Linked DNA regions of Homo sapiens: all the other regions are linked to region 2. The links come from fine-mapping of genetic effects on gene expression. A gene starts in region 2. Each other region holds a variant in brackets. All regions are shown on one strand. Distances are from middle to middle.

The links. PIP is the estimated chance that this variant, and not a neighbour inherited with it, causes the effect.
Region 1: its variant is fine-mapped to the expression of DCAF5 in whole blood (INTERVAL, PIP above 0.99).
Region 3: its variant is fine-mapped to the expression of DCAF5 in thyroid (GTEx, PIP above 0.99).

The regions. Positions count from the first base shown.
Region 1 is chr14:69,052,786-69,055,285 of GRCh38, reverse strand. It overlaps DCAF5 (DDB1 and CUL4 associated factor 5), which reads left to right. Exons shown (of 9, transcript NM_003861.3): 9 at 1-2,500. The coding sequence ends at 1,429. Among named protein-coding and RNA genes, the nearest start is that of ACTN1-DT, 74 kb to the right of the region's middle. RefSeq lists an enhancer at 1-389. The variant AT/T (reference allele first, on the strand shown) is at 1,484.
Region 2 is chr14:69,152,029-69,154,860 of GRCh38, reverse strand. DCAF5 (DDB1 and CUL4 associated factor 5) reads left to right here and starts at 1,742. Exons shown (of 9, transcript NM_003861.3): 1 at 1,742-2,096. The coding sequence starts at 1,883. RefSeq lists silencers at 1,298-1,937, 2,758-2,807.
Region 3 is chr14:68,613,775-68,616,623 of GRCh38, reverse strand. It overlaps a transcript of RAD51B not described here. Among named protein-coding and RNA genes, the nearest start is that of RAD51B-AS1, 70 kb to the left of the region's middle. The variant G/T (reference allele first, on the strand shown) is at 1,601.

The sequences.
Region 1 (2,500 bases), 99 kb after region 2:
CTCCCCGCCTCCCACAGTAGATGAGTCTGCCGACAACGCCTTCCACCTGGGGCCCCTGCGGGTCACCACCACAAACACAGTAGCCTCAACTCCACCAACACCCACGTGTGAGGATGCAGCCTCTCGCCAGCAGCGTCTGTCTGCTCTGCGGCGCTACCAAGACAAACGCCTCCTGGCCCTTTCCAATGAGTCCGATTCTGAGGAGAATGTCTGTGAGGTGGAACTAGACACAGATCTCTTTCCCCGGCCACGGTCACCCAGCCCCGAAGATGAATCCAGCAGTTCCAGCAGCTCTAGCAGCTCTGAGGATGAGGAGGAGCTGAATGAACGCCGAGCCTCTACCTGGCAGCGGAATGCCATGCGGCGCCGACAGAAGACAACCCGAGAAGACAAGCCCAGTGCCCCAATCAAGCCCACCAACACTTACATTGGAGAAGACAACTATGATTACCCCCAGATCAAAGTGGATGACCTCTCCTCCTCCCCAACCTCGTCCCCTGAGCGGAGCACTTCCACGCTAGAGATTCAACCAAGCCGGGCATCACCAACTTCTGACATAGAATCAGTTGAGCGAAAAATTTATAAAGCTTACAAGTGGCTCCGCTACTCTTATATCTCCTACTCAAATAACAAAGATGGAGAGACCTCCTTGGTGACCGGGGAGGCAGATGAAGGGAGAGCAGGAACCAGCCACAAAGACAACCCAGCCCCTTCTTCCAGTAAGGAAGCCTGTCTAAACATAGCAATGGCCCAGAGGAACCAGGACCTGCCACCTGAAGGCTGCAGCAAGGACACTTTTAAAGAAGAGACTCCTAGAACTCCCAGCAATGGCCCAGGCCATGAGCACAGCAGCCATGCTTGGGCAGAGGTGCCAGAGGGTACCTCTCAGGACACTGGCAATAGCGGCTCTGTAGAGCACCCTTTTGAAACCAAGAAGCTCAATGGAAAGGCCCTGAGCAGTCGGGCTGAGGAGCCGCCTTCTCCTCCTGTCCCCAAGGCATCTGGCTCCACTCTCAACAGCGGGTCTGGCAACTGTCCCAGGACCCAGTCTGATGACAGTGAGGAGAGGAGCCTCGAAACCATCTGTGCCAACCACAACAATGGACGCTTACACCCTCGTCCCCCTCACCCTCACAATAACGGGCAGAACTTGGGGGAGCTGGAGGTGGTGGCCTACTCTTCCCCAGGACACTCAGACACTGACCGTGATAACTCGTCCCTGACAGGGACACTCCTACACAAAGATTGTTGCGGGTCTGAAATGGCCTGTGAGACCCCCAATGCTGGAACAAGAGAGGACCCCACTGACACCCCAGCCACAGATAGTAGCAGGGCTGTTCATGGCCACAGTGGCCTCAAAAGGCAACGAATTGAATTGGAAGATACAGATTCAGAGAATTCCTCCTCAGAGAAGAAATTAAAAACATGATAAATACAAAGGGAAAACAAAAAGCTACAAAAGTAGCCTTACAAAAAAAAAAAA[AT/T]TGTTTAGTGAATACAGAGGAAAGGAAAAACAAGTATTAAAGGCACATGAAACCAGGGCCTGAAATTTTGTGTCTGATGCTGCTCCCTTCTATCCAACATTCAACAACGGGTCTGAATGTCTAGCTGGCCATTGGCTTGTGCTGTGTTAAGAAAGGGGAAAAAAAAATAACCCAAGTGACTCCTTTCTAGTGAGACGTGAGCGTAGTGTGCCGCGCAAGGCTCTGTGGAAGTAAATCTTTGTTGAGACGTTCGACTTGTTCTTGTGTACGCACAATGGCACGTGTGCGCTTATTGTCTCATAAGACCTTCCTTTTAGTTCTCCATCAGAAAGGACCTATGAATTTGTACTTTTTGCCATCTCACCCTGTTTACATGCCATAGGTGTTCTGGTCTGGATGATGGGTGCCTGTTAAATCAGGTTGTGCTGCCAGTGAGTTGTAGATTTATGCTGGAAGAATGGAGAATGGAAACAGGCCTTCAGCCCATTGGCTGCGCTGGAGAGGAAAGCATGGTTCCTTTCTTAAAGAAATCTTCCATGTTTTCTCTAAGTAACACTTCTTTATTGAGCATTTAATGTGGACATACTATAAAAAAGAATTTTTAATGCTAATGAGAGGTTTAGCACTTAAGATCAGATTCAAGAGAATATAGATTCCTGATAAATTTCACTGTTTGCAAATTGAGCAGTGCTGCAACATGTACTGTATGAAGGCCATAAAATAGAGCTAGTCATGGATAACAGACTTTAACCAGTTAGGTGCTAGATCCTAAGAGGCACTCACAAGGCCAGCAGGTGCTTCCTTGGCTCCCATGATCGATCGAGGCATAGTGAAAGAAGGGCAAAGACAGCTTTCCAGAGCTTTGTGCTCAGGCTACTAAAGTAGTTGTTATAGGTGTGTTAACGAAGAAGCTTAGTGAGGAGCAGAATGTGGTACTATATTCATTTAACTCAACCCAGAACCATTGGTCAGAATTGGTGGGACTGGCATCTTCCCTCAGACTTGCAGTTGATAGA
Region 2 (2,832 bases):
CATCACAAAAATAAATGATTAATTACACATTTTGACATTGCAATGACAGAAGGATGTTTGGTGCTATACATCTTTAATAAAGCTGGTATACTGCTACTAATTTTTAGGTGGTGATTATAATGAATAAACACAAAGGATTATTAGAAGGCATCCTGAGGATAAAACCTTTTAAGTACCACATAGTTTCCTATTTAGGGGAACAATATTCCATTAAAATTCACATTTTTGGAATTTGATTTCTTTCTTTTAAAAATTTATTTATTTTTTGCCCTTTTCCCCAAGTTCTGATGGAATTTGGTTTCTGTTTAGTAATGTTTGCTAGAATATGTACTTTTATATGAAACATTTGCATATTTGTTATTAGTACGATTAATCGTATTGTCACTGAACAAAAAGTAGAAGTAAATAATTTTGTTTGACGGGTAAACCTCTTCCATGTTCAGCCGATCTTTTTTTTTAAAAAAAATTATTATTATTTTCCCCAGATCAGAGATGTACAGCCCATCTTTCAATGATGATTCTACTCAACTGCTCCTGTGCCATCTCTGGTCCAGAGGATGTAATTCCTGCTAACTTGAAAGGGCAAAACTGACAAGTGCCTATTTCAGTAGCTTATTACCACTTAATGACAGAGGATAGCTTCCAGGAAAAGTACTATAATACATCGAAAAGGGGACTTTTAACTGTATCTGGTAGAATTCCAAAGCATTTAACACCCACTAGGGTCAACGCGGTGACTCCCATCCTACTGAAGTGCAGCCACTTCTGGCCTGGAGCGCAGCTGCTGGTTAACAGCTGTCCAACCTCAGTGCTCCCCACTCGAGACCTTTAAGAGGAGCTCACCGAACCCAATTAAATAACATATATCGTTAGTTTCAAATCACGCTTCTTGTGTCGTGCAAATTTATCTGGAACGGAGAGAAGTACCTCGTGCTTCTCGGGACTTCATCAACTCGGTTTTGGCAATTTTCTTCCTACTTCTTTATCCCTTTCTCTTTCCCCCCATGTACCACTCTAATCTGCCAGACGGAACAATTTAGCCTTTTTCAACTAAAGGACCGGAGGAAGGAAGAGTTAGAGAACTGGACTTGGGGATGAGCGGTGGTGTTAAACATTTACCGGGAGAGGGGAAGGGGCGGGTGCGCGAACAAAACCCCCAGGCAACGTTCCTCCAAGTGTGCGGCCCTACCTCCCGGTTCCCCCGCCTCGGGCAGGGCCGGACTGCCCAAGGCAGAGGCCAGCAGAGGAAGGAGGGCCGGAGCCCCCGCCCGCACCTTCCCCCACTCCAGCCGCATTTTCCCCGAACTCGTACGGGCGCTGGCCTCCGGGCAGCAGCCGGCCCGCGGGTCCCCGCGGGAGGAAGGCGAGCCAAAGCCCGGCGGCCACTCGGATTGTTACGCGCATTCAACTCCGCGGAGTGCGGGGCGCTGGGGTGCAGAGGGGTCTCCGCCCGGCGCCACCCAGGTCCCCAGGCGGGAAGCGGCTCAACTGGGAAAGCAGCCGGCGCCCGTGGTCTCCGGGCCGGCCGCCCGCGTTCTTCCGGCCAGCCCCCCGCGGAGGGGAGGGGCGCCGACGCCGCGTTCTCGGGGCCCCGCAGCCGGCGGAAGGGCCGCGCATCGCGGAAGCGCGGCGGCAGCTGAGGATCAGCTGCTGGAGGAGGCGGAGAGGCAGAGGGAGGAGCCTCGGGGGGAAGGAGAGGGAGGGGACCGTCAGGAAGCCGCGAACGCCGCCGAGTGTCTGCACACCTCGCTCTGCCTGCCATGGCTGGTTAAAGAACCATCCGGATCGCAGCGCGGGGGGAGGGCCGGGTGGGGGGAGCAGCGGCCGCGCGTGAGGCCGAGGGAGGGGCGGCGGCGCGAGCGGCGGCGGCGGCGGTTCCAGCATGAAGAGGAGAGCTGGCCTGGGGGGCAGCATGAGGTCAGTGGTGGGCTTCTTGTCCCAGCGGGGCTTGCATGGGGACCCCCTGCTCACTCAGGACTTTCAGAGGAGACGCCTGCGGGGCTGCAGAAACCTCTACAAGAAGGACCTCCTCGGCCACTTCGGCTGTGTCAATGCCATTGAATTCTCCAACAATGGAGGCCAGTGGCTGGTCTCAGGTAAATCAACCCCCTTCCCCTCCCCGCGCCTCCCCGCACCCTCCCAGCCTCCCCCTCTCGCTCTCCCCCGTCACCCTCCTCCTGCCCTCTGTCCCCACCCCCTCCCTTTCTCTACCCCCTTCTGCGGTGGGAAGGTTTGGTGTCAAATTAAAACCATTGCAGGGGGAGGGGAAGGAGAGGATGTCTTCTATAAAAAAGACCTAAAATGGTTGACAGCTCCTTAATTCGCTTTATCCCAAGTGCAAAGTGATCTCTCCTGATGCCTGCCCTGAAAGTGTAGGTCGGGGAGGGGGGCGAGGTTACCGCTCTACAAAGTTTGACGGCAAACTCTTCCTCCGCGTACTTTAAAAGGTGCTGGGGGCATTTTGGGGATGTGGAGGGTGAGGAGGCCGAGGAGCGCCGGAGGCAAGGGGGAGCTGAAGCCCCCGTCGCCGGCGTTAAGGAAAAGGGGTCTTGGGGCTGGGAAGCGGGCGGTGACAGACCCGGACGCCGAGGGGCCGGGGGCTGCGACCCGGGGGCTGGCGGGGTCTGCAGAGGGGAAGTGACTGGGGCGGTAGGGTCGCTGTGGGCCGCCCCCCTCGGCGCTCTTAGAGGCCCAGCACCATCGCCTTTCGTTCGGTTGTGGCCTCTTCTGCGTCTTGTTTTTAATACAGTTTCGAGAGTGGCGAGGGCTGTGGAGGCTAAAGGGCACCAGCCTGAACTTGAATGCGCAACTTGCGAGGCAGGCGGTAGGGTG
Region 3 (2,849 bases), 540 kb after region 2:
AATACCACAGATCCAGGAATCACAATGAACCCCAATCAAAATAAGCAAGGGAAATCACACCATCATACCAAAGTACATCATAATAAATTACTAAAATTAGTAATAAAGAGAAAATCTTAAAAGTAGTCTGAAAAAAGCTGTATTTTATAGTGTCATAGAGAGTATAGGAAATACTGCAGACTTCTGATCAAAACAATGCAAGCCAGAAGACAATGGAATACTTTCTTTGATATACTGAATGATACACAAATCAAATTCTGTATCCAGCGATATAATGAAGACTTTTTGAGATAAATGAAAGCTTAGACAATTCACCATCAGCAGATCTACCCTAAAGAAATGTTAACATAAGTTTTTTACAAAGAAGGAAAATAATACTTGGATCTACACAAAAGAATGAAGAGCACCAGAAATGGGAAACATGAGGATAAATATTAAAATTTTTCATTAAAAATTTCTTTAAAATATTAAAGCAAAAATAATAAAGTACTGTAGAGTTCATAACATATGCAGAAATAAAATTTATAGCAGCAATAGCACAAAGGACAAGAGCATGTAGCTAAAAGTCAATGGTCTAGATAAAATGAAATAACAAAAAAGAACCCTCACTTCAAAAGAAGGCAAGGAAAGATGCAAAAGGTAACAAAGAACAGATGGAATGAGTAGAAAACAAATAGTAAGATGACATACCTAAACCAAACATGTATGTTACATGTACTTGTAATTAAATGCAAATGGTCCAAATACCCCAATTAAAGGTCAGGCACTATCAGACTGGATTTAAAAAGCAAGAAATTCATTTTAAATATAAAAACACAAATAGTTTAAAAGTAAAAGAATGAAAAAAGATATGCTGTGCAATGCTTATCACAAGAGAGCTGGAGTAGCTATATTAATAATAAAAAAAGAAGACTTTAGGACAAGGAATAGCACCAGAGATAAAGAGAGACAATTTCATAGTGACAAAAAGGAAAATTTAAGCCAGGTGCAGTGGCTCACGCCTGTAATCCCAGCACTTTGGGAGGCTGAGGCAGGCAGATCATGAGGTCAGGACATCGAGACCATCCTGGCTAACACAGTGAAACCCCATCTCTAATAAAAATACAAAAAATTAGCTGGGCGTTGTGGTGGACGCCTGTAGTCCCAGCTACTCGGGAGGCTGAAGCAGGAGAATGGTGTGAACCCGGGAGGCAGAGCTTGCAGTGAGCAGATATCACGCCACTGCACTCCAGCCTGGGCGACAGAGCGAGACTCCGTCTCAAAAAAAAAAAAGAAAAATTTAAGAAGATTTAACAATTCTAAATGTTTCTGTACCTGCTAACAGAACTTCATAATATATGAATCAAAAACTGACAAAAGTTAAAGAGGAAATAGACAAAACCACAGTCATAGTTTGAATATATACATTTCATCATTCCTCTCTCAAGAATTAATAAAACAAATAGTCAGAAAAATCAGTAAACCAGTAAGGATACAGATGATCCCAGCACTTTGGGAGGCCAAGGCGGGTGGATCACAAGGTCAAGAGATCGAGACCATCTTGGCCAACATGGTGAAATCCCATCTCTACCAAAAATACAAAAATTAGCTGGGCCTGGTG[G/T]CATGCAGCTGTAGTCCCAGCTACTTGGGAGGCTGAGGCAGGAGAATCGCTTGAACCCAGGAGGCGGAGGTTGCAGTGAGCTGAGATCATGCCAGTGCACTCCAAGAAAGCTAGGTCAATTGCTCATATGACTAGCATTTCTACTCCTAGGTATGTACCCAAGAGTATTGAAAATCCATGTCCACACACACTGTATATGAATGTTCATAGCAGCATTATTCATTTTAGCCAGAAAGTGGAAACAACTCAAATGTGCATCAACTGATGAACAGATAAACAAAATGTGGTTTATCCATACCATGGAATATTATTCAGCTATGAAAACAAATGACATTCCAATACATGCTACAACATGGATGAACCTTGAAAACACTATGCTCACTGAAAGAAGCCAAACACAAAAGGTCACATATTGTATAATTCCATTTATATGAAATGTCCAGAATAAGCAAATCCATAGAGATGGATAGTAGAATAGTGGTTGCCAGAGGAAAGGGGAAGGAGGAATGGGGAGTGACTGCCAATGCATATGGAGACTCTTTTGGGGGTGATGAAAATATTCGGAACTAGATAATGGTGATAATTGCACAATTTTGTGAATATACTAAAAATCATGGAATTGTACACTTTAAGAGGGTGAATTTTATGGTATGTCAATTATATCTCAATTAAAAAAATAAGTATTTGGTATAAATGATTTTATGCCCCAGTGTTGATAATGGATAAAGGCTTAATGAGAGACTCTTCTCAGCAATATGGTTCAACTCAGACCAACTCCTCCCTACAAAGGCTACAGAATCTATTTTTTCAAAAAGTCCAGCTCTTAGGACCTTTGTTCTTAGCTGTGGTTGCTACCAGGCTGCCTCTGAGGCCTGAAAAATCGTGTCATAGGCAGTAGAGGTTGAATTTTGTATTTTAGTATCTATGCTTACTTTCCTGCAGTATGAGTTCTTTAAAGTCTATTGCTAACTTGCACTCATAGGCTGAATTGAAAGAATAAAGGATCACAGTGAGGCACTTTACAGTTTATAAAAAAGCATGTTCACATTCACCACTCTTTTGATTTTACGCATTTAGATTTAAATTGGGCGTTCTGAATGGCCACACAACAGCAGGCCCTAAACTCTAGCCCCAACCTCTCTGACTCCAAAAATCGAGTCATTCTTAAAACAACTAAAATGTGCTTCTGAGCAAGTTATGGAGAAATGGGCTGCCACTCGCCCTCCCAAGAATATTATGAAGGCTCTTA